2 separate regions of the Homo sapiens genome follow, and region 2 is linked to region 1. A link means that fine-mapping ties the variant in region 1 to the expression of a gene that starts in the linked region. Tissue or cell type: monocytes after LPS. Region 1 holds a variant in brackets; the other region holds the start of a gene. All regions are shown on one strand. Distances are between the middles of the regions.

Region 1 (8,106 bases):
GCGGAGGCTGTACTACTGCAGCTGATGTTGCTTCTGGAAACCTGGTTGAGAAAGATTTTGGTTTTTCTTTACCAGCAATAGTACCTACCTAGTGTCCAGGATCTAGCTTTGTGTTGCTAGGGGCAGGGCCCTGAGCATCCATTCCTTGGACCATAGAAGACAGGTATGGTCTTGGCACCGTAGCAATAGCAGTGTCTCTTCTATCGTGACTGTTTTCTTAATCATAGCAATGGCTGTGTGACCCAAGGCTGGCAAATTTCTGATCTCAGAAGAGGCAGCAACTCCCTTGTTGAACTGATATTGGGAAACTTTGCTGAGAACACAAACTACAGTCTGTCTCTTCATCTCTCCCAACCATTTTGTAAGCTATTAAATACTGTGTAATAAATTCCTTCCTCCTTAATCCAGCTAGAGTTAATTCTGTTCTCTGAAATTGAATCCTGATCAATATAATAATATACTTAAAAAGCTCTTTTTTAAAATAAAAGGCCTGGAAGAGTGCACATCAAATTGTTAAATAGTGGTTACATCTATAACCCACTGAGGGAGTGGGTGGGAGGATGGCAAGAAAAATAGGCTTAACATTTTTTTAATACAGTATGAAGTTTTCAAATAGACTATATTCATAATAATGTTTGAAAAATTAAATAAAGTGTAACTTGTATGTTAAAAGCACAATTCATTACCTGATCAAAATGTAGCTCTTTTATCTTTCAAAATCAATTTAAAATGTATTCAGTGTGGGTAATCCTCCCTGGCTCACAGCACCCTGCTACTCAAAGTGTGGCCCAAGAACCTTCAACATTGGCATCAATTAGAAGCTTCTCAGAAATGCAGACTCTCAGGCCCCACCCCAGACCACTGAATCACAATCTGCATTTGCCGTGGATATTGGCAAACTTTAATGTACACATGAATCACCCAGCGCCCTGGTGATTCATGTGTACATTAAAGTTTGCAAATAGCCATGATTTTTCTGCTTCTTTAGGTAATGGAGAGTCTTATAATGACTTTAGGCTACAAGTATAGTTTCAATTTCTAAATCAGGATGCCCATTCTAGATGTTAATCAGACCTCCAGTCTTTATCCAAAGGTAAGTCTGTCTTCTTACTTATCCATTTAAGGTGTTGACTTGGGGAAGGGACTTGATTGGTGTTTCTCTCTCTCTCTCTCTCCCTCTCTCTCTCTCTCTCCACATCCCCTCCTCCTCTCATTAGCGTCTGTTTGCTTCTCACGTAGGCCAAAGTAGGAGAGCAGAGGGAAGAAAGGGAGAATAGGTAAGGGAACAGAAAGTTATTTGGCTGAGCTGCTTTCTACTCTCTGAATTTGACAGGTGGCTAAAGCTAACTTGTTCTCCCATGAGCATTTTTGTAGACTTTTTGGATGTTTATTTCTGGGAATTGTTTCCTTAGGGTGTTGTGCTCAAGGCAGATGCATCTCTCCTCCAGGTGTTCCAGTGCACCTCTTTCCTCTGCCCCTAGGAATATAGATGCAACTCCAGCTTTTTGGTGCCTTTATCTGCCCCTCCTGGTGACCCTATAGTACAGGAACCAAGGCAACCCCATACTAGGTCTCTTTCTTCTTAATTTTATTGTTATTGTTTCTTTCTTTTTATAAAGACACAGTGTCTTTCTGTGTTGGCCAGGTTGGAGTGCAGTGGGTATTCTCAGGTGCTATCTCACTATTAGTCAGCACAGAGTTTTGACCTGCTCCATTTCTCACCCGGGCCATTTACCTCTCCTTAGGCAATCTAGAGATCCCCTGCTCCCAGGAGATCACCATATTGATGCCGAACTTAGTATGAATACCCAATGGGCATAGTGCACTAGAGCCCAGAACTCCTGGGTTCAAGCGATCCTCCTACTGCAGCCCCCTGAGGAGCTGGGACTACTGGCATGCACCACTGTGCCCAGCAAGCACTCTGTTTTTCATAGGCCACAGAAATATATATAGATGTGGCTCCTGGATCTTTTGTAGGGCTGGCTAATCCTAAAATAGGCTCTTCTATCCTACCACCATAGCTCACTTTAACTTTCTCAAGCCTAAGTCAGGCCCAGTTCCCTGTATCTCCCTACTGCAGAGAATACATTTCAGACCTACCTGGGTGATTCCATGGGTATCTTTCTCATTAGGCTTGAGAATGAGGAGGTAAGCTTCCCATGCCTCCCCACTATGAAGGGGAAATATGGCAAATAAATCATTTCACAGATCCTCTCTCCTCTCCATATCCTGGCCCCTTTTTATCCCTTGACATGATTTCAGAGTCCAAAAGTCAAGGAACAGATAGATCCTCAACCATTTCCTTTGTAAATTCTTCATATGATGATCCAGCTTCAGAATTTCATGTCCACTGTATCTTGAAATATCATTTCTGACATCCTGTCACAAGTACAATTGTTTAATTGTACAAAATAAAAATAAAACCCTGCCTTCCTGCCGTATTCTCCCTGGACACATCCATCTGAGGAACATGGTAAGTAAGTCATGGGTCCCAAATTTTAAAACTGGAGATATGCTATTTAAAAAACGAGTGGTTTGGGGGGACATGGATGAAGTTAGAAACCATCATTCCCGGCAAACTAACACAAGAACAGAAAACCAAACACCGCATGTTCTCACTCATAAGTGGGAGTTGAACAATGAGAACACATGGACACAGGGAGGGGAACATCACACACTGGGGCCTGTTGGGGGCTAGGGAGGTAGGGAAGGGATAGCATTAGGAGAAATACGTAATGCAGATGACGGGTTGATGGGTGCAGTAAACCACCATGGCACATGTATACCTATGTAACAAACCTGCACGTTCTGCACATGTACCCCAGAACTTAAAATATAATAAAAATAAAACAAAATAAAAATAGGTTAACAGCAAAAATAAAAATAAAAATAAAAAGGCCAGGATGGAGAAGGAATTCCAAATTTGAAAAAGTTAAAAACCCTGAGGAAAAAAAAATTCGAATGAAATAGTATACCTTTAAGAAAACATAGGCATGAGCTAAGCAGTGTCTTTAGTTATCTGAAGGCCTGTCAAGAGGGCCAGAAATTAGATTTGTTCTGTGTAACACAAGGGGGTACAGTGAGTAGAAGTTACAACAAAATCATTTTGCTCATTATAGTAAGGAAGAACTTTTTAATTTCTAGAGCTGTCCAAAGATAAGAGTGGGCTTTCCTTGGGAAGTAATGGAAGGCCACATTCTCACAAAAAGTCAAGCACAGCTGCGTGGCCACATGGCAGGAAAAATTTAGAAGCATCTCTTTTTTTTTTTTTGAGACGGAGTTTCATTCTTGTTGCCCAGGCTGGAGTGCAATGGGGAGATCTCGCTTCACTGCAACCTCCGCCTCCCAGGTTCAAGCAATTCTCCTGCCTCAGCCTCCCAAGTAGCTGGGATTACAGGTGCGTGCCACCATGCCCCACTAATTTTGTATTTTTGGTAGAGACTGGTTTTCACCATGTTGGTCAGGCTGGTCTCAAACTCCTGACTTCAGGTGATCTGCCCACCTCAGCCTCCCAAAGTGTTGGGATTACAGGCATAAGCCACCATGCCCAGCCTGAAGCATCTCAATAAATGGTTTCTTGGTTGAACTAAACAGTCTTTACTTTCCCCTTCAGATTTTTTGAGGACCTCCAATTCATCCTGAAAGATGTCCACCTTTAGTCTCTGGCCACATGTAGGACTATATGTAACTTTTTTTCCTAGACATTTTGAAGTTTGTTTGCCTAGAGCTCAGGATTTTTTATTTTATTTTATATATTCTAAGACTTTTTTAAACAATGTTTTAACATCTCTGAAATCATGATGTATCTAATAATTGCTGTCTTGTTATAGTTTTCATTGCTTATATGAACATTAAAATACCAGCATCAAAATTTACAAAATGGTGTAAGCAGCTTGGAGAAAATTTCTAGAGACAACAGTGAAGCAACTGTTAGTTGTGGGAAAAATGGGGTGGGTGGTGAATCAGACTTGTGTAGCAACATTCCT[G/A]GAGCAGAAGTCAAAAGCAAGTTAGCTCCAGATAATTATAAAACCAGCTTAAAAGTCTGGCAACAACGACTGTTACTTTTTTATGACTTCCTTTAAGAAATGCAGCACTTCCCATGATTTTCATAGAAAAGATGTCACAGGAGTGAGGAAACATGGGCACTGATAAATATGAGTTGGAAAGTGATTCAGAAAAGTCAGAATCTGAATGTAAAAACATTTTAGAAGTATCTTACCCAATTTATTTCACATATGTTTCCCTGTTTATTCATTATTTATGATTTTATAAGTCTATTTTAATTAAGTCTAAAAGACATTGTGTAGTTATTTAGCCATGTTTTCCCTTTTCTTATGCTTTCTTTAATGGTGTATCCTATAATTAATATCATTTTAGATTCAATGAATTACAGTCATAATAACAGTTTACTGCTTCTTATGTATTAGATGTACTACTTACAAATCTCATTTAATCCTTCTAGCAATTCTATAGGCATGTACTATTATCATTCCGTTTTACAAAAGAGGAAACAGAATTTCAGAGACAATGTATCTTGCCCAAAGCTACACAGCTGTTAAGTAGTAAAAGCAACATTCGAACCCAAGTCTATTGACTCCTGAGCCAAGACTCTTAACTTTATACAACTCTGCCATCTCTAGGTCCAAAGCTAATTAGCTTGGCTATTACAACTTAACATGATGCACTAGGGTATATTTACTGTTAAGAGATGAGAGAATGATCATCTCCCACACTGCAGTGAGACTGACGCCTTTGAACTGAAAAAGACAGTAGTGTGTTGTACCAATTTTTTAGTCTCAGCTCTATCAGGCGTGTACATTTATATGAGGATTCTCATTATAAGTAGAATGTCAAACATTGAAACCAATTATCTTTGCAGGTAGAGTGACTAGGGAACAAACTAAACCAATATGGGCTAACTATAGTACATGCTGAAAATCTCGCGAAGGACTACAATGATCTAGCTTGGAATAAGAGCTCTAATGGACAGAAAACGGGTATTTAATAAGGAATTACAGTCAGAAGTGCAGTTCTTTGAGCTAACTACAGAACAGCTAGCAAGGAATTCAGGAGTTGGATGGGTTAGCATTACAAATAAGTGCACTGACCCTTGGGGGACTGTACCACTGGACTGCTGTATGGCACAGGATAGTAAATCTATCGGGATCTGACTAGGGACACTCAACACTGGATAGTCAAAAGGTTTTCGTGGGTTTAATTAAAAAATAAAAGTACAATGATATGCTCTCTTGACCAAGGTAAGAGAAACAAGCTTTCACCTTCATAATTAGTAGAAGCACAAATTGGTACATTCTCTTTGAGAAATAATTTGCAACATCTATTAAAATTCTAAAAAGACACATATCCTTCGATGCAACAATTCTACTTCTAGGAGTTTATCCTACAGACATATTCAGATATGTGCGTAAAGATACAGATGTAAAGATATTCATTGCAACATAATTTAAAACAGCACAAGTTTAGAAACAAATAGCTTATCGGTGGGGACTGGCAGGAAGTTGATTCCTGGACCCCCACACTGGGCTTAGTATCTCTCCTCTGTGCTTCTTATCATCAACTGTTTTAAAACCTCTAATGATGAAAGGATCTGTTTGTTTGTCTCTCCCTGTGAGGTTACTATTATTTCCCTCACTTTGCAAATGAGGAATCTTGGGCTCAGAAGGCCTGTGCAGCCCTTCTACAACAGTTGAAGCAAAAATATATACAAAAATAAAGTCATGAAAGGTGGTGGTGTGTTGGGGAAAGAGCAGGTGGTCATTGTGGCCATAATATATGATGAATGGGCTCAATATACTGTGATGGGAAGTTTGGACTTTAACCTAGAGAATTTAATTCAATCTCTTAGGAAAAAAGCCATGAGTGTGAAACCTATAAACCAAAAAGCATCTGAGACGGGTCTCAATCAGTTCATAGGTTTATTTTGCCAAGGTTAAGTACCATAGCCCGTGATACAGCCTCAGGGATTCCTCAGAACATGTGCCTAATTTGGTTGGGCTACGCTTGGTGTTATACATTTTAGGGAGACAGAAGTTACAAACAAAGACATAAATCAATACATGTAAGGTATACATTGGCTTGGCCTGGAAAGGCAGGACATCTCAAAGTCGGGTTGAGGGGGCGACTTCTAGGTAATAGGTGGATTCAAAGATTTTCTGACTGGCAATTCGTTGAAAGAGATAAGCTATGCCTGAAGAATTGAAGTCAGCTTGAGTTAAGGGAAGGGAGCGGTTCTGGAAGCCAAGGTTATTCTCATGTAGGTGAAACCTCCAGACTTCAGAGAGAATAGATAGTGAATATCTCTTATCTGACCTTAAAAGATGTCAGACTCTTAGTTACATCTCTTCTGGATCAGGAAAAGACCTGGAGAGGGAAGAGGATTCTCTACGGAATGTAAATTTCCCCCACAAGAGACAACGTTGCAGGGCCATTTCAAAATATGTCAAAGAAATATAGTTTGGGGTAAAATACTTTGATTTTCAGAGTCAGGTTGGAGTTGGTATCTTATTGCTACATAGTCAGTTCTGTCAGTCTTAGGATCTCTATTTTAATGTTATGCTGGTCAGTTGTGCTAAACTCCAAAAGGGGGAGGGTATAATTAGGCATGTCCAATCCCCCACTTCCCTTCGTGGACTAAACTGGTTTTTCAGGTTTCTTTGAAATCTTCTTGGTTGTGAGGGGGGTCCATTCAGTCTATTGGGGGGGCTTAGAATTTTAATTTTGGTTTACAAACCCAAAGAGATCCCCCTTTCATAGTGTAAGGTCAAGTAAAAACTGAGACTCAAGGAGAACAGTTTAAAGAGTAAGGCTGAAATCCAAAGGGAATGCGACAGAATTTTTTCTGCTCTCTGATAGCGGACATTGGGGTTCCTTGTCTGGCATCTGCTATGGACAGCCGCAGGATTAGGGTTTGCAGCCTAAGTCTGAGACACCAAACTGATCAGAGTATCAGAGAGAAGCAGATTCCTCCCTAGGTTTCTCCAGCATTTTTCTGCCATCCCTGCTGTTTGGGAATGAGCTCTGAGAGTCCCCTTGGACAACCTGGGCTAGCTAGCCTTCTGGTTTCCCTAAATGCATGTAGGAACCTCAAACAAAAGGGATGAAGATGAAGCTGATATTTCCTTAATGCAGGTCTTCCTGGGAGATCAATAACAGATATCTTAGAAGATCATCTTGATCCTGCCCTCCTCTTAAAAGCTGGGGTACACGAAGAAGACAGTGGAGTCTACAGGCCATATGAGTCAATTCCTCTCCCCTACACCAGAAAGTTGAGTCATGAATGATTTTCACTCTCACCAAAAAGTCCTTGTTCTTCCCCATCCCCCCGCATCCTAGTTCTAAATGGAAGTAGATGGCAAAACAAGAACAAGGATGTTGATGTTGCCAAAAAGGTGTGAATGAAAGAGATACTGCTGCCCTAGCTCTCCTTTGAGTAACTATTTCTCTTTTTTGTACTCTTAAAAAATGATCAACTGATTTTTTAAATGACCTGAGATTCTTTGATTACTAAGCCTCTTGCCACTAATGTTAGTCACTTCCTGTCTATATCAAGATGGCAGAAACCGGCCGGGCGCGGTGGCCCAAGCCTGTAATCCCTGCACTTTGGGAGGCTGAGGCAGGTGGATCACCTGAGGTCAGGAGTTCAAGACCAGCCTGGCCAACACGGTGAAACCCCGTCTCTACAAAAATACAAAAATTAGCCTGGCATGATGGCAGGTGCCTGTAATCCCAGCTACTGGGGAGGCTGAGGTGGAAGAATCACTTGAACCTGGGAGGCGGAGGTTGCAATGAGCTGAGATTGCTCCAGCCTGGGTGACAGAGTGAGATGTGAGACTCCGTCTCAAAAAAAAAAAAAAAAAAAAAAAGCAGAAATCTCAGGGAAACAAAATCAGAAGGGGAAAAGAGCCTGGGCACTGAAATAGAGTGCAGTTAGCTAGGAAAGGTGGCCTTGGAAGAGAGTTCTGAGAAGTGAGATGAGCCTGCATCAGAAAGCTGGAAATCAGAGCCACAAAGGCCCTTGTAGACCAAGACCCCAGAACTGAATTATAGGCACCTGGACATATCTCTCAGAGTTAAGCAAAGATCCAC
Region 2 (8,092 bases), 26 kb after region 1:
CTGACAACTCAGGGTCATGGGGCTTCCTGCTTGGGGTTCAGCTGAGGGTACAGCTCTGAGAATTGGCGCTGGAAACAGTTCTGGGAAAAAGATAGGCAGGAAAGAAGAGCTCAGCCATCTTATATACAGGTAGACACATGCAGGTGAAGAGACTTGGGGAGTCATACTTCCTTTCCCCTGTTTCCAGCAGGAATGGGCTCTCTTAGATTCCATTTGAATCTGTCAAGTTCTTTCTGTAAGTAGACAGGACTAGGAAAGATCCACAGATGGGCAAATCTGATAGTTGTCCAGACACCCAATCAGTGAGCACTAGGAAGCATAGATCTGGGTGGTAGGAACTATGCTGGACTCTGAGTGGGGCTGGATGACTTCAAAAGGCTGAGGTCTCGTCCCTTTCGAAGCCCAACTTGGGCATTTGCCAGCAACCTGCTCCATAGTCTGTTGATGATCTTGCTACCTCCAGGCTAAAGAAAGACAATTTGGGCTCCCTGTCTCTCCTTACCCTCCCCTGCCATGACAATGCTGCTTCTAGCTCTCACCTTGGACTGTGATAGCCACAACAGATGCTGTTTCTGGGATCCCAGGACCAGGGCTCTGGAAGATGCCACTGCAGTGGTAGTGCCCGCTGTCTGCCTTTTGTACCACGGTGATGGAGAATTCCCTGTTAGGCCCGGGGGGACCCAGAGCTGAGCCATCTCGGTAGAAGGTCACCTGAGTCAGTGGCCAGTCTTGCCAGGCCTGGCAGCGCAGAACCAGCAGGTCCCCTTCAAAAACTGGCTTGGCTGGACCTTGGAGGATCAGCCAGTCTATGGTCCAGAGAAAGAGCTGAGTGTCACCCAGGGCCTCCCTTGGGGGCCACCCCCAAGCATGCCTACTCCCCTAAACTTTCTCTGAGGGTCCAGGTAAACTCTCACCCCTGGTTGGGAGTATGGGACAACTTCCCTAGGGCCTAGGACTTAGAGCACCCTGGTTGCTGTGGGCTGAAGACTGGGAAGGAAGTACCTCATCCCATAGCCAATTTCCTAGGGACACTTTCCTGGGTGGGCTCTGAGGCTGAAAGAAGGGGTTTGGGGCACTGCTCAGGCCTTCCCAGGACCTCACCATAGGACACAATCAGGTGGAAGGGTTCACTGAAAGTGTAGGCCTTGACCTGGAAGCCAGCTTCCCTTGCATCAGTCAAGTCATCCTCCGTGTGGCAGCTGCTCTCCTCAGTGCAGACAGGTCCCTCACACTGCAGCGTCTCAAAACTGGCAGCTGAAGAGGGCATGGCCCAGGGAGAACCAGAAAATGATGATGCAACTTGGAGAAAGAGGACAGGGTTCCTCCATCTCCCAGGATAATCATCCTTTTTAGAATGAGACTAGTAAGACATCAAAACCTTTTTTTTTTTCGGAAAGACCCCTGAGAGTGTCTCAGGGGGATAGTTTTGACCTTGATTCACTGGCGTCCAGGTGCTCTCAGCAAATGCACTGTGGTTTGGAGAAGAGGGAGGGGAGAGAATGAAAGAATGGTGAAACTCACCGGCATGACATCCAGCTGCTGGTACGGGAAACCAGGAGCAAAGACAATGGTAACTCGAAGCAGGGAGGCATAGGACAGGAATGAAAGGGAGACATCAGATTCTAATGTTCACTGGGTGCCAGACCCTGCTAGCACTTGTGTGCAGTATCTAACTTCATCCTCACAAACTTTCCAGGTAGGTGACTTTATCCTCATTTTATAATCTTAAAGAAACACACTTAGAAAACCAAATTAACATACCCAAAGCTTAAAAAGAGACTAAGCAATGGATCGGGAAAGGCAGGTGTGTCTGAGTCCAAAATCAATGTTCTTTTTACTTCACTGTGCAAATATGGTCTACTTCAGTCCTCAGACCTTCCTCGGGGACTTTCTTTCATATTCTGATTTTCCCAAACTTCACTTGGCTCCTCAGCCTTGAATATGTTATCTAACAAAGAGCTTTCAGTACCCAGCAGTGTCTCTCCTCCTTTCTTCCTCCCCCTTGCAGGTCTTCACTTTTCAGCCATCTTTACTTTAATGTCCTCTGCCACTTGAATTTTCCCTGGCAGTGGCACAGAGCTTTCTCTGTCTTTTTTCCCCTCCTCCCAGTCCATATTAGTAACTGTGGAACAATTCTTTGCTCCAGATTGAAATTTAGAATTATCCATTTCTCACCACATCTCCTCAACCTATCTCTTACCTTCATGGTAGACCTAGGCAAGGGAAGTGACATTTCTCCCTTCTCTGGGACTGCTCTTTATCTCCCTAACTATTCTCCCCCTCCTCCAGCCTCATGGCCATTCACATGTGCATACTTCTTCACTCCATCTGACTGTCATTTCGTGCCCCACTTGCCTTTATTCTCTTCCACTCCCAATAGCCCAGCGTTCTTCTTTGATTTTGTCATGTCCCTTACCAAGACCCCTCCCTACTTCCTAATTCTCATCACATCAGTACCAGGTGTTTTCTTTCCATCCTTTCTCCGCTCCCTTCACTGTAATGCTACCTCTTTTCAGTTCCTCCACTGTCACTCATCTGTGCTCTGCCTCCTCTCCATTTTTTCTTTTTAAAAATAAAATCTTATCCAGGCGTGGTGGCTCATGCTTATAATCACAGCACTTTGGGAGGTTGAGGTGGGAGGATCCCTTGAGCCCAGGAGTTTGAGACCAGCCTGGGGAACATAGAGAGACCCTGTCTCAACAAATAATTTTTTAAAAAATTGGCCAGGCCTGGTGGCACTTGCCTGTGGTCCCAGCTACTTGGGAGGCTGAGATAGGACGATTGCTTAAGCCCAAGAGGTCAAGGTTGCAGTGAGCAGTGATTGCACCACTGCACTCCAGCCTGGGTGGCAGAGCGAGACCCTGTCTCAAAACATAAAATAAAATAAAATAAAATCTTGTTGGGTTACTGGGAACTCACTCAATAAACCTTAGGTGGTAGGTATTATTATTTTCATTCTACAAATGAGAAAACTGAACCAGAAATAGAAAAAGTGATTTTCTAAAGTGACATAGAGCTGGTAAATAGAAGAGGGGCTTGAAACAGGAGTATCTGATTCCAAGTCTGCAGTTCTTATCACAAGACAAAAACAAAAAAACATTGTCACTACCCACAAATAGCTCTCAATTTAGTGGAAGACACAGGTAGATGAAAATATTATTTCAGCATAAGTAGGAAAATATTATAATAAGAAAAATGTATCGCAAGCAGCCATTGGAGCAGAAAGAAGCATTCAAGAAAAGCTACCTGGAAAAGATACCATTTAAGCTGAGTCTTTAGGGGTACCTACACATTTGCAAGGAGAAGGAGAGTAGGGTGCCATGGAAAGAACTCATTTCAGGTAGAGATAGTGGTATAAGCAAAGCCTTAGAGACAGGCAAGAGTCTGGTGTGTGAGTATGTAAATATGAACTGATTGAGATTTATTAGAGCATAAGTTACAAGGCTGAGAGGGTAAAAGTAGAGGCTGCTTGGCCTTTTGTGCCATGATAAAGAATTTGGGCTGGTAAACTTGAGTTTTAGAAATTACTCTGTCTGCAGGGTACAGAATTCATTTCAAGAACACAAGGTTTGGACGAGGAGATTAGTTAGGAATTTACTGGAATAGCCCAAGTCATAGAGGATGAGGGCTTGTCCTAAGACATTAGTGATGATCCAGGCAAGGGACTGCTTCTATGAACAATTTAGAAGGTAAAATTGGCCAAACCTAATGATTGATCAGATTTAGAGAATGAAAAAGAAGGAAGAGTCTGGGTTGTTTCTGAGGTTTATGGCCTTGTAAGGGTAGATGCTGGTGTCATTAGCTGAGATCAGAAAGTGGAAAATGAATTAGATGAGGCAGGGGCCAAAAGGACAGATAAGTTCAACTCTAGTCACATGGTGCAGAGACACTTGTGAGATATGTAGGTAGATATGTCTGGTATGAAGCTTGATATTTGAATGTGAAGCTCAAAAGCATGGTTAGGGTTGGGGATATGATTTGGGACTCTTAAATACAGAGTTATAGTGGCAAAAATTAAACAGACAAATAAGCTCATGAAGGAGATTGTGTAAAGAAAGAGGAGTACAGAGGCAAGGCTATAACTATAGAGAACACTAGTGTTTAAGGGGAAGAGAAGAGAAGCTATTAAGGGATCAAGAGAAGTCCATGTAGTACAAGGAGAAAATGGTGCCATGGAAGCCAGGGTAGTAGAGAATGCAAGAAGGAGTAAGTGATCAACAGAGCCCAGTGCAGCAGAGAAGTCCAGCAGGATATGAACTGAAAAGCATGCCATAACCCAGTCAATATAGAGATCGTTGTGCCCTAGACAAAACCAATTCCAGTGGAAGCCAGGCTGCAAGCATTGAGGAGCGTGTGAGAAGTGAGGAAGTGGAGATAGCAAGTGCAAACTATTCTTTTAAGAAAACTTGTCTCACAAGTGAAAGAAAAGAGTTGAGATTAGAGCTAGAGAGGATATCATGATCAGAGGGGACTTTCAGGATGGAAGATTTTTATATTCAGAAAGTAATTCAATCCTGTACACCAAACTTTCTTATACCTACCCTTCTTATTCCACCTGAATACTGCTTCTTTGGAGGGCCAGAATTAGTCCATGTTTCTTTCCTTCTGGTCCTTTCTCCCAAGGTAAGCAAAGCTCCATTCCCACACCAATATTCAAATATTTTACTTACCCAGTAGCATCTGGGCCACCCAGAGCACACCAAGGGAAAGGTAGAGGGCCCAGGCCATGAGGACACAGCCCAGCTTCATGGTGACTGTGTTTAGGTCTCCTGCAACCCCAACACTGATTTTCTTCAACATGAAACCTCTCAGATTAGAAAAGAGGAAGTAAATTTAACTGTCTCATCTCCTTGCATCTGGGGTCTGTTTTCATTTTCTAGTTTGTAATTGGCTTTCATCATTCAGATTTGGCCAACACGCTTTCAGCATCATCTGCACCCTTAGGGCTATGACAAAATGGTAGCACTCTCAGCTGTTCAAGAATTTACTCACAGAGCTCAGGGGCCTGTCAAAGCATGTCATTGTCTGATAGCCAGCTGGCCTTCATGTACACTCTGGGAAAGGTCAGTGCAACAACCACCCTTTTCACTGGTGATGCAACTGGGGACAGAAGGTGGGATGTTGTTTGAAGGCCAATAGAAAATCACTGGAGAATCAATGATGAGAATTCAAATGTCCTGCCCATTCCAACACTTATATGTTTCTAGTGACTAGAAGGTAGCGAGACAGAGAAGGAAGATTAGTCACGGCACCAAGTTAGATATCAGATTAGTCTCTAGTAGGCTCTGACTATCCAAAGCCCACACAAATTTGCATGCAAATTTCTCTAGACTCGTGTCAGCTCTCTATTTCTGGAGCATGACTAAGTCTGCTCAGTCTCAGTGGAAATATGAGTACAAGGCAGGGAGAATCCACTGGGAAAGAGTAGAGGAAAAAGAAAATCTATTCCCAGAGGATCCAGCAGTCAGCTCAGGGCTTAGGCTCATAGCCAAAGCTCAGGCCACTGATCCTGAGGAAATTAGAGATAGGAGGCATCCGATATCTTGAGAAACCTGAGGAGACTCAGGAATAGGAGCAATATAGAGGCTACAGCCTCTCCCTTCCGTTCCAGATGGCCTCCTGGGAACCATTGTCCCTGCCTCTGAATGTTTGCTATTTGTTTGAGGCCTACTTAATGGTAGGGCCCATGTGTCTTTTCACAGTGGCCACATTCCTCCCCTTTCTGTCATCATAACACCCACCAGGCCTCCAGTAGGTTATTTGGAGATGAAATGAGCCATCAGAAATGGGGTAAGGTAGGCCAGGCACTGTGGCTCATGCCTCTGTAATCCCAGCACTTTGGGAGGCCAGGGTGGGCGGATCACTGGACTGGAGGTCAGGAGTTCAAGACCAGCCTGGCCAGTATGGTGAAACCCCATCTCTACTGAAAAAAAAAAAAAAAAATTAGATGGGCATGGTGGTGCATGGCTGTAGTCCCAGTTACTTCAGAGGCTGAGGCATGAGTATCATTTGAACCCAGGAGGCAGAAGTTGCAGTGAGCCAAGATTGCACCACTGCACTCTAGTGTGGGTGACAGAGCGAGACTCCATCTCACAAAAAAAAAAAAAAAGAGAGAGAGAGAAATGGGGGAAGGTAGTTTGGTCCTCCTTGAAGGCAGAGAGAGGGACAGTATGACCCTTCAACTGTGCAAAAACCACAGGTCAGAGCAGACATATCAACCACACGGGCATAAGAGAGTGGATCTTTCTGAGTCTAAAATAAGCATTTAGAATAAAATTTCCATTATCGAGAGGCATACGCTTCTGTGCAGGTGGCCCCAGGGAGTCCAGGGGTGGTTGAATATGGGTGCTGGGGAAGGCAGTGAGGCAGTAAGCCTTGCAGCTGATGTGATGTGAAGCCTCAGAAGAGGAAGAAAAGCCTAGCTAGCCTTAATAATTTTTTTTTTTTTTTGAGATGGAGTCTCTGTTGCCCAGGCTTGAGTGCAGTAGCGCGATCTCGGCTCACTGCAACCTCTGCCTCCAGGGTTCAAGCCATTCTCCTGCCTCAGCCTCCCGAGTAGCTGAGACTACAGGAGCGTGCCATCACGCCCGGCTAATTTTTTGAATTTTTAGTAGAGATGGGGTTTCACCCTGTTAGCCAGGATGGTCTTGATCTTCTGACCTCGTGATCTGCCCACCTCGGCCTCCCAAAGTGCTGGATTACAGGTGTACGAATTAAACAAATAAAATGTGTTTAGATGCATCGCCACTCCTAAAACTACATAAAACATAGACCCTCAGGGTTAGGCAGAGGCTAAGGGGCTTCTAAACAAATCATGATATCTTTCTCTTCTTATGTCACCCTTTCTCCTTTACTGTCCTTACCATAGCATCTTACCTGGATAGAGACCCTCCCCTATACCATCTGCAGCAATCCTTGCAGGACCCCACTGTCAATATGGAAGGCAAGGGGCCTTCTGAAGATTTGGGGTGAAGCTATCAAGTTCTTTACACTGAAATTTCCATTAAGCTGCTGGGAAAATTTACTCGCTTGAAGCTTAATCAATGAACTATTTAGAATAGATGTGATTCACTGCGAGGAAAAAGCAACATTGGGTCTGCTGTTTGTTCATGGAGACTGAGATTCGGTTTATTGAGTAAGTTCCTCCATCAGGATCACCTCAGAATACTCAGGGGGAGATGGGACAAATCCCAGCTCTCATCCCATCCCAAGACCAATTAGGTGGTGGATGCCCTCCTTTGCCATTCCTGGCTTGTCACTAGTGGACTAATGCTTATCTCTTCTTTATTTTTAATTGAGTAGATAAAAATATTTATTAAAAATGTGAAGGTGTAAAAAATAATGCAGTGTATACTTTTGAAACCTTATATGGTTGAAGGAACAGACTAGTACTGTTATCCTTGAAGTACTGCATAGATCCCTGTCCGATTACACTGTCTTCCCTCCCCACCATCATCAACCACAATCTTTACCTTATATTTATCACTCTCTTTATTTTATGTAGTAATCATTTTGTATTTTTGAACTTTTAGTAAGTGGAATTGTACTGTATTTATCATTCTAAGGCTTTCTCTATTTTTTTTTTTTGAGATGGAGTCTCACTCTGTTGAGTGAGTGCAGTATGTTTGATCTCAGCTCACTGAAACCTCCACCTCCCGGGTTTAAGCGACTCTTCTGCCTCAGCCTCCCGAGTAGCTGAGTAGCTGGGACTACAGGCGTGTGCCACCACACCCGGCTAACTTTTGTATTTTTAGTAGAGACGGGGTTTCACCATATTGGCCAGGCTGGTCTCGAACTCCTGACCTCATGATCCACCTGCCTCGGCTTCCCAAAGTGCTGGGATTACAGGGGTGAGCCACCTTGCCCAGCCAACTTGCTTTCGTTTAACTCAACTGAAATACAACCTGATGTTCTGTGTAGCTATAGTTAACTAATTGTATTGCTGTGAAGTATTTCATCATGTGATCATGTCACAAATTATTCTATTGACAATGGACATGTGAGTTATTTTCAGGTTTTTGCTGTCAAAAACCATGCATCTATTCATGTACATAATTTGTTATTATAAGAGTTTCTCGAAGGTACATATATG

What was found. PIP is the estimated chance that this variant, and not a neighbour inherited with it, causes the effect.
Region 2: FCRLA starts here. The variant in region 1 is fine-mapped to the expression of FCRLA in monocytes after LPS (Fairfax 2014, PIP 0.91).

What each region holds. Positions count from the first base shown.
Region 1 is chr1:161,729,616-161,737,721 of GRCh38, reverse strand. It overlaps the pseudogene RN7SL466P. Among named protein-coding and RNA genes, the nearest start is that of FCRLB, 12 kb to the right of the region's middle. RefSeq lists an enhancer at 1,512-1,621. The variant G/A (reference allele first, on the strand shown) is at 3,987.
Region 2 is chr1:161,703,922-161,712,013 of GRCh38, reverse strand. FCRLA (Fc receptor like A) reads right to left here and starts at 4,785. Exons shown (of 5, transcript NM_032738.4): 1 at 4,671-4,785; 2 at 1,102-1,254; 3 at 540-806; 4 at 1-80. The coding sequence starts at 4,749. RefSeq lists enhancers at 4,310-4,489, 6,030-6,249.